Homo sapiens: one gene and its partners. The protein of the gene in region 4 purifies or fractionates together with the protein of the main gene of each other region. This does not show direct contact. Each region holds a gene or a part of one and is shown on either strand. Other genes may lie near its edges. The genes, in order: AVL9, EMB, ANKRD36 and PER3.

Evidence for each region.
Region 1: the proteins of PER3 (region 4) and AVL9 purify together in Homo sapiens (affinity purification with mass spectrometry; one large-scale study listed by BioGRID and IntAct). This does not show direct contact.
Region 2: the proteins of PER3 (region 4) and EMB purify together in Homo sapiens (affinity purification with mass spectrometry; one large-scale study listed by BioGRID and IntAct). This does not show direct contact.
Region 3: the proteins of PER3 (region 4) and ANKRD36 purify together in Homo sapiens (affinity purification with mass spectrometry, with the first as the bait; one large-scale study listed by BioGRID). This does not show direct contact.

The regions. Positions count from the first base shown.
Region 1 is NC_000007.14:32,571,986-32,575,557, reverse strand, and holds part of AVL9 (late secretory pathway protein AVL9 homolog), read right to left. Parts: intron 2,449-3,572; coding exon of another isoform or gene 2,360-2,448; coding exon 2,140-2,359; intron 1-2,139. UniProt on the Homo sapiens protein: Functions in cell migration.
Region 2 is NC_000005.10:50,399,770-50,403,341, reverse strand, and holds part of EMB (embigin precursor), read left to right. Parts: coding exon 1-164; intron 165-1,022; coding exon 1,023-1,056; intron 1,057-3,428; coding exon 3,429-3,483; intron 3,484-3,572. UniProt on the Homo sapiens protein: Plays a role in the outgrowth of motoneurons and in the formation of neuromuscular junctions.
Region 3 is NC_000002.12:97,259,614-97,263,185, reverse strand, and holds part of ANKRD36 (ankyrin repeat domain-containing protein 36A), read right to left. Parts: intron 1-3,572.
Region 4 is NC_000001.11:7,790,749-7,794,320, reverse strand, and holds part of PER3 (period circadian protein homolog 3), read right to left. Parts: intron 365-3,572; coding exon 313-364; intron 1-312. UniProt on the Homo sapiens protein: Originally described as a core component of the circadian clock.

The DNA of each region.
Region 1 (3,572 bases), on a different chromosome or scaffold from region 4:
CTTTCTACTTTTTTATAAATGTCATTTTTCTACAAAAAAAAAGATTAAGAATGAATACACAAATTGGTTCTTTCAGTCATGATGTTCTCTCCTTTGGACTTTATTTGGTGTTTCATTCTTGAATTTCCTAGCATTTCACTGTCAAAAACACTTAAAAAAGGCCAGGTGCAGTGGCTCATGCCTGTAATCCCAGCACTTTGGGAGGTCGAGGAGGGCGGATCACTGGAGGTCAGGAGTTCGAGACCAGCCTGGCCGACATGGCAAAACCCTGTCTCTGCCAGAAATACAAAAATTAGCCAGGCGTGGTGGCGGGTACCTGTAGTCCCAGCTACTCGGGAGGCTGAGGTAAGAGAATCACTTGAAACCAGGAGATGGAGGTTGCAGTGAGCCAACATCATGCCACAGCACTCCAGACTGGGCAACAAGAGCGAGACTCTGTCTCAAAAAACAAAACAAAACAAAACAAAAAAAGTCTTAAAAGAATATACTGAAAACTGATAAAGTTTTCAGCTTTATCAATACCATGGGAAAGCATCCATATGTGTTTCCTCCGCTTGGAAGATTAGAAATGGTTTGGAGAACTGATACAAATGGCTATTACTTCATATATTAATTGCATGTTGTTTACTTTGAAGGTGAAATACAAAGTACCTTTTGTTGCTAGGAAAGGAAATGAATGAGATACACAGTTCCATACACAGCATAAAGAAGTTGTTCTAAGAACACTTCCTCAAGCAGTTCATTGGGCTGAATTTCCTCTTTTGACCTTGTTACTTGTAAGAGTATGGGCCTAAGCCAAACTGTTTGGGATCAGATCCCACCTAAGCCTCTTATGAACCTCTGTGAGCTTCATTTTCTCTTCTGTAAAAGGCAATGACAAGGTCCCTACCTTCAGGATTGCTGTAAGGATGAAATGAATTACTAGATGTAAAGTGCTCAGAACACTGGTCCCTGCATATATTTAATGTTCAAAAAAAAAAGTGAGCTACTATTATTCAGTGCTTACAGCCTCCTGGGCAAATATTTTTAAAAAAGCAAATTAATTAATTTGCTTAAAAGCAAATTAATTAAGCTACATGGCAGTGGAGACTGAAGTTTTCTTTCTAGATTACCAAATGATTTGGGGTTAAAGGATTTAATTTTGGTGTCTCAGCTGCTACATTGTTAGTGGTGGCAAACATTTAAAAATATCTCATTAACAAACGAGGGCTTGTTCCTCAGCTGTCTTTTACAAATGAAAAACTCTCCCGAAACCTACTTTAAAACTCCTATGTGCACTGTAAACAACTAACCTGGGAGCATGTGGTGGTGGTGTTGATTAAAAAAATCTACTGATACAACAATGAATGTATCTAATGCCACTGTGGAACTGTACATTTAAAAATGGTAAAGATGGTAAATTTTATGCTATGTGTATTTCATCACAATTAAAAAAATAATGGTTAGTTAACTGAAACAAAAACACAAGCTCAACACATTTTTAACAACTCTAATAAATATCTGCCAAATGTCCAAGGTGAAAAGCTCACTGCAGAGCTCCATTTTCACTATTTATATATTTCTTTCCCAAGGAGAATGAGATAGTTTTAATGCAGGAGTAACTCCATGTTTACCTGCTCCATTTTAACCATTTAATACGAATAATAATATTTCTTAGAATGGGTTATAAATTTGAAGATTTAATCATTTACAACACGATTTTCAATGATTTCTATTTTTTATATTCTTTCTCCCTTTATACATCTTAAAAAACATGTGGCAGTATTCACAAACAGCTGCCAAATACTGATGAATATGAAGCAGTCATGTAAAAGTGATGATATATGTTCATGTTATGTTGGTATGTGTTGTTTCTATTATAAAGTAATAGTTTCAGAAAACATGTATAAAGGGATCCATTTTTGTAAAAGGACCACCAAAAGTACCATAAAACCAAAATCCAAAATACATGCATAGGAAAAGATTTGCAAGGCTATAAAGTACTAAAGACGTTAAAAGTGGCTATCTTTGTATGAGGGAATAACTGGTAATTTTTCTATAAGGAATATGTATTTATTGTGCAATCCAAAATCTCATAAATGTTACAAAATGAAAAATTATAATAAAACAGGTAGCTGTAGGCTCCGTGTGGTTTCTTACCTAATTGCAGTGTGGCAGCCAGCAGGGCATGAATGTAGACCGCAAACTGGGCCCGGATCCATTCGTCACCTCCCTCCCAGCCCGTGCCATCTAGGAAGACGTCATCCCGATTCTCAGTCACGTGCCTCACTAGGTAGTCTGCGAACCTTAGGTCTGCAGTGGTTGGGTTAAGCAGCTTCCTGAGTTCTGGATCATGGATCTGGATCAGAGCTTCTTCTACCTAGAGGGTATCCAGGTACAAGTCAGAGTCTGGGCATTCACGCAGACATCCATGCCACACTTTACAGAGTAACTACGGGGAAGGTGGAGCTGGAAATAAAAAATATGAATAATGGCATTCTCAAAAGGTGAGTCTAAGAAAGAGGTTTGTACACTGAAGTTTTCTTTCTATTTATAAAATGCTCATTTTCTGTTTTTAGAAAATACACACATAAATATAGTATTTTAAATTACAAAATTACTCACCTAGATTGCAAATATTTGGGAAAATATAGAAATACATGTAAAAATCACCTTTATTTCACTAGCAGAAATGAACACATTTAACAAGTATAATTCCTTAAATACTTTTTCTTTTGCGTGCAGATACTTTAGAATATTCTTTTTTTTTTTTTTTTGAGACGGAGTCTTGCTCTGTCGCCCAGGCTGGAGTGCCATGGCACAATCTTGGCTCCCTGCAAGCTCTGCCTCCTGGGTTCATGCCATTCTCCTGCCTCAGCCTCCTGAGTAGCTGGGACTACAGGCGCCCACCACCACGCCCGGCTAATTTTTTGTATTTTTAGTAGAGATGGGATTTCACCATGTTAGCCAGGATGGTCTCGATGTCTTGACCTTGTGACCTGCCCACCTCGGCCTCCCAAAGTGCTGGGATTACAGGCGTGAGCCACCATGCCCGGCCAGATACTTTAGAATATCTTATTATGTAATATTTGATATACTAAAAAATACATGTAACTTACAGGTTAGTTTTGAAGTATAATAATAAAAGAAATTCCTACGAACCCACCAACCAACTACAGAACTAGAATGTAACCAATAATGATGAAGCAGCTTTATGGTCCTCCCATCTGTATCCTCCTGTCTTGGAAAATGTATATACTTTTTCTTCTTCAAATTTGGGATTATAATAAATACATCTTTGAATCCTGGACTTTCATTATATTATAACCATTCACCCAAGAAACATGTTTTCATACTTTCTGTCAGAAACTACAAAAACCTCAGTGTGGCTGAATTTTTTTTTTTTCTTTTTTTTTTGAGACAGAATTTCACTCTATCGCCCAAGCTGGAGTGCAGTGGCACGATCTCGGCTCCCTGCAACCTCTGCCACCCGGGTTCAAGCGATTCTCCTGCCTCAGCCTCCCGCGTAGCTGGGATTACAGGCACCTGCCACCATGTCCAGCTAATTTTTGTATTTTTAGTAGAGATGGGAT
Region 2 (3,572 bases), on a different chromosome or scaffold from region 4:
TGCACTATTCCAATTAGGCGAGAGTGAAGAACACATTGAGCTTGTGGTGCTGAGCTATTTGGTGCCCCTCAAACCATTTCTTGTAATAGTGGCTGAGGTGATTCTTTTAGTGGCCACCATTCTGCTTTGTGAAAAGTACACACAAAAGAAAAAGAAGCACTCAGGTGGGATTTCTTTTTTTTGTTTTTTGTTTTTTTTAGAAAGTATTATCAGTTAATTATAAGTATCATTTACTTATGATATGGATTATGATTTGATACATTGCAATGACTTTAGGATTTTTGGGGAAAATCTTCATTTTCTTATTTGGAGCAGTATTTAGGTTTACAACAATGGTGACAGTGAGCTGGAAACATATACCCATGGTCTTCCTGTTTCAATTCCTGAAAAAACTTAGTATTAAAAATGCCTTTTTTCTTTCTCTTCCCCCACCACCCCCCTCTTTTTTTTTTTTTTTTTTTTTTTGGTGCTACTGGTACCTAAGTACCAATTAGGTGATATGTATTCTGGCACTGGAATATTAGAAAAATCTATGATAGCTTAATATAAAAAGTCTAAAAGAAACAATTTTTCTTTCACTTAGATTATCATTTAAAAAAATATTTTATTAACCATTCCAGAGTTCTCATTAAAGAGAGACCATCCTGTCATGTCCTATTTTTGCGGCCTGTGCCTGATGGGTTACAGGTTGATAAAGCAGTAATCCTCTAGAAAATTGACCTTACGTCCTGTATTCTTTCCTGATTTTATACTAAATTTTTAATGATTTAAATAATGACAAACTAAGCAGTCATGTTTTTGAAAATACCAGGCCACTAAACTATGTTTGATCAGAAATGCAGATAAGGTCTGTAGTGCAGATAAAGGAGGTGTAGGTGTTTAAGGTAGCATGTCTCTCCTTCATTCCAAACAGGAGAAACAGCATAGTACTTACTTACTTAGGAAGGAGGTTTAATTGAGCATATATGTTCCATAAAAGTGACAAACCAACTTCACAGTCAAATTCTTCTTTTGTTACACAGATGAGGGGAAAGAATTTGAGCAGATTGAACAGCTGTAAGTATTATTTTTTACAGATTAATTTTCACTTGGGTAAAATACAGGGAAACATAAAATTGAATGAAATGTTTGCAGTTAGGGGGAGAAAAGGCAGAGGAGTATTTTCTGTATATGTCCACGTGGTGGTGGAAAGTGGCTTTCCAAGTCTGCCTACCTGCGTGAGAATTCTTCTTCATCACTTACTACCTGCACTTCTCTGTACTTCAGCTTTCTTCTCTACAAAATGGATTTAATAATAGTACTCACCATATGAGGTTGTTGGATGGAATGAATATTATATATGTGTAAATGCATAGCATAGGTTATGGTGCACAGAAGGTGTGCAGTAACCATCAGGAAGTATTTAATATTATTATTTTTAAAGCAATAGTTCTCAAGCCTGGCAATTTTTGATCACTTAAGAGCCTCTTTAAAAAAATACAGTTGCTCAGACCTTGCTGAATCTCCTGGATCAGAACCTCTTGGGTTGGGGCTATGGCATCTGTTATTTCTTGAAAACATCTACAAATGGTTTTGATCCTCTGTCTGTTGAAAATCACTGGCCTAGAATTCTATTAGTTATTATTATTCAGAGAACACAAATTGTGCCACAGGTTCTCTTACACAGCCTTTGTTTAGAGTTAAGCATGAGGAGGTCTGGAAATAAAATCACCAGGGATGTAATTTAGTTTGGCAAAGATGGGAGTTCCGAATTCCTCGAAGCCAGAGAACTGAGTATGGAGGCCAGTGACAGAGGTGTCCAAGACTGGGATTAAAGCCTGAACAATAGAGCCAAGGGCTGGAGTCCAGGAAAACGAGGCTAGATTAAAGTTGCTGCAAGAAACCTGAGAAGTGGAAGGCCTGAGCAACTATAACTAACACAAAATGGCACTTAGAGTTTATCAGCCAACAGGAGCTCTATGGAGTGAGTGTTACAGGCATGGATAGCAGGAGTGGAGCAGACAGTTGTCATTTAGATGTTTGTAGACATTATTCAGATAATCATGTTGACTCCATTCACATAGGCTGCTAAAATAAACCAATATGATATGAGCTTCCAAGTTAAGGGCACAAAATAACTACATCAGAAATCCTATAACACCAGATAGAGAAAAGCAATGTTGTCTTAGAATCATAGACTCCCATAGTTGGAAGGGAATTGTATCTCTCCCAAGAGAATCCCTTCTCTTTCTGGAGAACATAGATATCTTATTTATGTTGATTTGAACTTTTAATCTTTCCTATTTCCACGTATTGGCGTTTTTCTTGTTCTTAGCATCATATAACAAACGTGACAGTCATTGACATATTTGAAAACAGAACCTTGCTCGGATTCCTCTATTCTCCGAGCTCTGCCTCCCACTGTCTCTAACCATTCTTCTGAGCTCACATTTGGAAGTTGCATTCTGATTTAAAACACACTCTGAAAGGATGGTACCAGAACAGTGTGGAATGGACCATCACTTCTGAACAATGTAAAATGGATTCAATATATAGTGTAAAAGATGAATTATTTTTCTGAAAATTGGATCAATGTACATCATTTTGCTCATCTTGTATAGCACCATAAGGATCACTGAAGGTGTTTAGTTTTTCTTCAGGTTATTTCACTATCTTTAGATTGTATACAAATATCAAGGGCACTTGAAATCATTCAGAACAATGAGCTTCTTGATGTCCCTCAAACCATTTCTTGCAATAGTTGCTGAGGTGTTTTCTTAGTGGCCATTATTCTGCTTTTGAAGAGTACACACAAAAGAAAAACAAGCACTCGTGGGATTTCTTTTTTTTTAGAAAATATTAATTATCAGTTAATTGTAAGTAACACTGTCTTATAATATGCATTATGATTTGATAATTGACGCCTGCCCCCAAGACCTTGAAGGGCAAGGTATTCATTATGCATACTGGTTATTTAGTTTCCGTCAATCTTTAGAATCTGAGGCCCACATTTGTAGTCCTGCTCTGATAAACTTTGGGTGGAAAAAGAACCATTTTTAACCTCTATTTCAGTGTAATAAGCATACAAATGTATAGCACCAATATCACACATGTTGGCTGACCTCCTAATTGGCTATTACCTTGCATGTTTCCAAAACCACACATAAGTTATGGTCTTTACGCCCAAGTCCTCACTCATGCTTGGGGAGAAGCAATTCTCCCTGTGCATAAAATCAACAAGCCTTTGTCACTATCATTTGTGGTAACAGCTCCTCTTCAAGCAATGCCATAAAATAAATTCAACATTGTAAGTAAAACATTTTTAGGAAGAAAGAATTCTGTCCGTATTGACATTTTACATTTTAACCTGATAGCCATATCAGTGATGTACTGACTTAATTTTATATAATATAAGCATTTAGTAATTTTCTTTTTTGTTTTCTGTGCAGGAAATCAGATGATAGCAATGGTATAGAAAATAATGTCCCCAGGCATAGAAAAAATGTAAGTTACTTCTGAATGATATTCCAAATAAAAGGTCAAATTCAATATACATAGGCTATCTATCAATCAGTTACTTTTTTTTAGTTCCA
Region 3 (3,572 bases), on a different chromosome or scaffold from region 4:
TCATTTTGGTCAACCACTTAACCAAGGTCTAATTAAGTTCCACAAGTTTCCTCATCTTCCTGACTTCTTTGCCTATTACCCAGTTCCAAAGCAAATTCTGCATTATCAGGTATTTTTATAGCAAAACCCCACTCCTTGGTACTAATTTCTGTGTTAGCAACACAGAATAACACAGAAAAGAGCAACACGGAAAAACACAAATTTTTGTGTTGCTATAAAAAATTAGCTGAGACTAGGTAATTTATAAGGAACAGAGGTTTGTTTGGCTCACAGTTTTGCAGGCTGTAGAAGAAGAATGGCAGTGGCATCTGCACAGCTTCTGGTCAGGGACCCAGAAGGCTTTTACTTGTGGCTAAAGGTGAAGAGACAACGGGTATGACACACATGGCTAGAGAGGTAGAAGAGACGGGAGAGGTGCCACACTGTTTTAAACAACCACCTTTCGTGTAATGCAGTGAGAACTCACTCATTAGTGAAAAAAGGGCAAGAAGCTATCCAGGAGAGATCAACCACCATGACCCAAACACCTCCCACTAGGTCCCACCTCCAACATTGGGGATCAAATCTTGACACAATATTTGGAGGGTACAAATTTGCAAACAATATCACTCTCTTTTTGTCTTTAACTTTGGACAATTTGATTATAGTGTATCTTGTTGTGAGTCCCTGGATTCACCTTATTTGGTTTCCTTTGGGCTTTCTGGATCAGGCTTTCTGTTTTCTTCCCCATGCTTGATAAATTCTCTGTCATTATTCCTTTAAACACTTTTCCGTTCCTTTCTTCCTCACTTCTCCTTCAGGCATGCCAATAATGTGTGAGTGGTCCTGCTTGATGGTGTCCCATAACTCTCTAAAGTTGTCTTCACTCCGTTTGCATTATCTTTTTTTCTGATCCTCAGGTTAGATAATTTCCAGTGACCAGTCTCAAAGTTCACTGATAGATTCTATTAATGGACACCTCTATTAAATTTTTTCAGTTCAGTTACAGTACACTTTAGATCTATGATTTGTTTGACATTATTGTATAACGTTTTTCCTTTTCTTGAAGTTCTCAACTTGTTCTTGCAAAGCTATCTTGACCTCAGTGATTATTGTTATGACCATTATTTGGAAATCTCTGTCAGATAAATTACATATCTGCACTTCACTCAGGTGCTGGAGATTTATCTTGTTTTCTTGCTTTGAATATATTTCCCTGTTTCTTCATTTTTCCTCGACTCTCTCTGTTGGTTCCCGTGCATTTGATAAGACTGGCCTCATGTAGGAAAAGGATCTCACCAAACTTTCCAGCCAGAGATCTTCAGGTACCTCTCAAGTCCTTGTGTGCTCTAGTATTGACTGTTTTTGGTGGCTCCCTGGAACTTAGGATGTGCCACGCCTTGTCAGTAACCAGAAATTGGTTAAGGTAGGAGCCAGACAATCCAGATGTAGCTAGAAAGTTAGAAGGCTGGAGGAGTGTTTCAGTTCTTTCTAGCTACATGATGAAGATTAGTATGGACATTTATCTCCCACTCTCTCTCCATTAAGCTTGGTAGAGGATCTGTGACAAACACCTATGCACACTCTGGATGCAGCCTCTGATCCTGAGGAGATAGCTTCTGAATGTGGGCCCATTGTATGCTTACTTCTTTGTTTTCTATGGTCTAAATACATTCAAAAATACAAAATCCTGTCGACTCACAGAGCAGAGTTCTTAAGAAAACAGTTCCTTGGGCACTAACCACGGAGGTTGTGGAATTTCAATGCATAATCAAGCTCCTTCTGGGAGCTTGATTCAATGCATAATCAAGCTCCTTCCGGGAAGAATGGGTAGGCTTGGATTTATTACTGGGTTGAACCCGACATAAGACTGGTAGTGTCAAACTATGGTTCCATCTGCCAGATGAATTGTACTTTGTAAGCCACATTAGCCCCCATGATGCCAGTATTTAAATACAAAGCTAGAAATGATTAATAGGGTGAGAAAAGCATGTTGAAAGCTCAGATAGGCTGAAAGCTAGGCAACTTACATCAAACAGTAAACTAAGCTGTGAATGCAAAAAAAAAAAAGTTCTTAAAGGAAATTAAACAGACTACTCCAGTGAATGCACAAATGATAAGTACAATGGTATTATTGCTGATGTGAAGACAGTTTTAGTGGTCTGGATAGAAAATCAAATGAGCCACAACATTTCGCTAAGCCAAAGCTGAATCCAGAGCTAAGCCCTAACATTCTTTAATTCTATGAAGTCTGACACAGGTGAGGAGGCTGCAGAAGACAAGTTTAAAGCTAGCAGAGGTTGGTTCATGAGGTTTAAGAAAAGAATCTTCATAACATAAAAGTGCAAGGTAAAGCAGCCAGTGCTGATAGAGAAGCTGCAGCAAGTTATCCAGAAGATCTAGCTAAGATCATTGATGAGGGCAGTTATGCTAAATAACAGATTTTCAATGTAGACAAAACAGCATTATACTGGAAGAAGAGGATACCTAAAACTTTCACAGCTATAGAGGAGAAGTCAATGCCTGGCTTCTAATCTTCAGAGGACAGGCTGACTCTTTATGTACTGGCTAATGCAGCTGGTTACATTAAAACATTAAAGGCAGTACTCATTTACCATTCTGCTACATTTTTAAGTTCTTCTAAACCTATGCTACCTATACTCTATAAATGAAACAACAAAGCCTGGATGAAAACACATCGTTTACAGTATGGTTTACCAAATATCTTAAGCACACTGTTGAGACCTATTGTCCAGAAAACGTGTGTGTGTGTGTGTGTGTTTGTGTGTGTGTATATGTGTATGTGTGTGTATGTATATATGTGTGTATATATATATATATATATATATATATATATATCTTTTAAAATATTACTGCTCATTGACAATGCACTCATAACCCAAGAGCTCTGATGGAGTTGTACAAATAGATTAATGTTGTTTTCATGCCTGCTAACACAGCATTCATTCTGAAGCCCATGGATCAAGGACATTTTATTATTTAAGAATACATTTTGTAAGCCTATACCTGCCATAGACAATGATTCTTCTGTGTATCTGCACAAGGCAAATTAAAAATCATCTGGATTTTTTTAGAAAGCAATCACTATTCTAGATGAAATTAAAGATATTTGTGATTCCTTGGAGGAGGTCAAAATATGAAGTTTGGAAGAAATTGATTTCAGCCCTCATAGATAGCTTGCAGGGTTTCAAGACTTCAGTGGAGGAAGTAACTGTGAGTGTGATGGAACTAGGGAGAGAACTAAGAGTAAAACTGGAGCCTGAGCCTGTGACTGAATTTCTGCAGTTTCATGATCAAACTTGAATGTACTAAAAGTTGTTTCTTATAGCCCATCCATCTGAGATGGAATCTATTCCTCGTGAAGATACTGTAAACACTGTTGAAATGACAAAAAAACACCTATCTTATTATACAAACTGAGTTGATAAAGCGGTGGCAGCATTAGATAGGATCGACTCTCATTTTGAAAGGTGTTCTACTGTGAGGTAAAATGCTATCCAACAGCATGGCACACTACAGATAAACCTTTCATCAAAGGAGTCAAGTGATGCAGCAAACTTTACTGTTGTTTT
Region 4 (3,572 bases):
CCGTTTCACCATGTTGGCCAGGATGTTCTCGACCCCTTGACCTTGTGATCCGCCCGCCTCCGCCTCTGCCTCTCAAAGTGCTAGGATTACAGGTGTGAGCCACTGTGCCCAGCCTCCTATTGCATTATTATCTAGTTTTCTCATGAGTATGTCTCTTCTCAATCAAAATACGAACTCCTTGTGGCAATAACCAAGTCTTATTTTTTGTATCTCGCAACAGAAGTGAGCTGAATACACAAGAATCAAACCAACTGCAAAATAAACTCAGAACATAATCCACTGTTGCTGGCTTCCACGAGCCACTATACTTACCGGATCCTGCAGAAAAAAGGTTTCACCGGAGCACATTCATACCGTGCAGCTGCTAGAAAGAAAGATGCCTGGTCAGTCACTCCCTCTTATCCAGGTCTTTCTCAGTGAAACAATGTTGCACCATTATCAAACAACAAACTATTTTTTAAAAGAGAGAGAGGTCTCCTTGATTAAAATAGAACCCCCTTCCTTCATTTTGAGATCCAGTCACAATACTAGAATTGGGAAATACTAGTATTGGTTTTGGTACTGGAACCGTGAACCTCAGGTATAACAGTGAGAATCGGCTTTATCTCTTCCCCTTACTACTTTTCATAGTTCCCAAACTGCCCATGTTCATCATCTCAAAGGTCAATGTAATGATCCTTGGACACAATTATTCTGGTGGTAATATTCCATCCCATTGTAATAGTCTGGACCTTTCTAAAAAGTTGGGAATTCAGACTATTTTCAGCTTCTTAGCTATACGATATATAATTTTCTTTTTTTCTTTAAGCTCTTTCTTTGGATAAATTTCAAAAAGTTGTGTTCCTAGGTTAAATGATAGAATCGTTTTATGACTTTATTGTGTATGGATAAACCTCCAGAAAACTGTACCAATCTTCAGAGTTTTATTAATGTTTTCTCACAACCCTCATGCCAATGATTTGCTAGCAATTCCATTGATTTCTGCACCCATTTTATTGATTTATGAGGTGATAATTCAGAAATGTCTAAATTTGCCTTAGGAGATGAGGGGACTGAAATTTCTGCCCAGTGTTTGTTGACTATATGTATTTCCTCTGATTAGAGCTTCCTGAATATCTTTTGGGCATTTGTTCACTGAAACAAGAAGTCTTCAGTTATAGGAACCATGGAAAACTGTGAGATGTTCAAAAAATATACACTGAAGGTAGCATAAACAGTGAAAATCCAAAACAACCAAAATATTGAATAAGCAGCCCAGGTCTTGATACTTCTAAGAGACGATCACAGAAGAGTCAGAAAGCATTAATAAAGCACTGAAGATTGGTATAATCTTCTACAGAAAACGGCCTCTACTGTGAGGTCAGTTTGCTTATACCATTTATTCATCACACCAGACACATGAACTCCAACTGCACTCACTAGAAGTCCTGGACCACTGAAAGCTAGACTACGTGATCTAAGACAGCAGACGTGCACCCACAATGCATTTCCATTCCTAGGCTGTAAATATGTGATGCTTGTTTCTAAAAGCGTACTCTGAAGAAGTAATGGTCAGATCCTTCTAAGAGGTTTGTACAAGACATGTTAAATAGAAACATATTCTAATACAGGACCAGAGGTTGACAACAGCTGAGTGGATTGCTTCCTAAGTCCTCTTGATGTTCTATGTGCTCAAAGTAAGGAATCGAAGGGGGTAACGCAGGCATAGCCTATAAAGGGGGTGGCATTAACCAACTGCTCTCAGTATCAATCCTTGAGATTCATAAGGCAAAAGTACAATATAAAGAGTAAACTAGAATTATATCGTGCCTTATGGCATAAGTGAATTTTGAGATCCAAAAGAATTATTTCAGGGCATATTAAGATTTTACATAAAAGGTGATATGGTTTGGCTGTGTCCCCACCCAAATCTCATCTTGAATTGTAGTTCCCATAATCCCCACATGTCAAGGGAGGGACCTGGTGGGAGGTAACTGAATCATGGGGGTGGTTGCCGTCATCCCGTTCTCGTGATAGTGAGTTCTCATGAGAGCTCATGGTTTTATAAGAGGCTTTTCCCCCTTTTGCTTGGCGCTTCTCCTTGCTGTTGCCACGTGAAGGACATGTCCCCGTCTGCCATGATTGTTAAGTTTCCTGAGGCCTCCCCAGCCATGCTGAACTGAGTCAATTAAAACTCTTTCCTTTAGAAATTACCCAGTCTTGGGTATGTCTTTATTAGCAGCATGAGAATGGACTAATACAGTAAACTTGTACTGCAAAGAGTGGGGTGCTGCCATAGATACCCAAAAATGTGGAAGTGACTTTGGAACTGGGTAACAGGCAGACACTGGAACAGTTTGGAGGGCTTAGAAGAAGACAAGAAAATGTGGGAAAGTCTGGAACTTCCTAGAGACTTGTTGAATGGCTTTGACCAAAATGCTGATAGTGATATGGACAATGAAGTGCAGGCTGAGGTGGTCTCAGAGAGAGATGAGGAACTTGTTGGGACTGGAGTAAAGGACACTTCTGCTATGCAAAGAGACTGGCAACTTTTGCTCCTGGCCTAGAGATCTGTGGAACTTTGAACTTGAGAGAGATGATTTAGGTATCTGACGGAAGAAATTTCTAAACAGCAAAGCATTAAAGAGGAAGCAGAGCATAACAACTTGGAAAATTTGTAGCCTGAAGATGCAATGGAAAAGAAAAACCCATTTTCTGGGGAGAAATTCAAGCCTGCTACAGAAATTTGCAGAAGTAACAAGAAGCCAAATGTTAATCACCAAGACAATGGGGAAAATGTCTTCAGGGCATGTCAGAGACTTCACAGCAACCCCTCCCATCACAGGCTGAGGCCTACGAGAGAAAAAATGGTTTTCTGGGCCTGTCCAGGCCCCCACTGCTCTGTGCAGCCTTGGGACATGATGCCCTCCATTCCAGCTGCTTCACCTCCAGCCATGGCTAAAAGGGACCAAGGTACAGCTCAGGCCATAGCTTCAGAGGGTGCAAGCCCTATTCCTTGGCAGCTTCCATATGGTGTTGGTCCTGCAGGTGTGCAGAAGACAAGAACTGAGGTTTGGAAACCTCTGCCTAGATTTCAGAGGATGTACGGAAATGCCTGGATGTCCAGGCAGAAGTTTGCTACAGGGGCGGAGCCCTCATAGAGAACCTCTGCTAAGAGAGATGTGTAAGGGAAATTTGGGTTCGGAGCCCACACAGTCTTCACTGGGGCACTGCCTAGTGGAGCTGTGAGAAGAGGGCCACCATCCTCCAGACCTAAGAATGGTAGATCCACCAAAAGCTTGCACTGTGAGCCCAGAAAAGCCACAGACACTCAATGCCAGCCCATGAAACCAGCCATAAGGGAGGCTGTACCCTGCAAAGCCACAAGGGCAGAGCTGCCCAAGGCTGTAGGAGCCCACCTCTTGCACCAGCATGACCTGGATGTGAGACATGGAGTCAAAGGAGATTATTTTGGAGCTTTAATATTTAATTATTGCTTCAGTGGATTTCAGACTTGCAAGGGGCCTGTAGCCCCTTTGTTTTGGCCAATTTCTCCCATTTGAAATGGGTGTATTTACCCAATGCTTGTACGT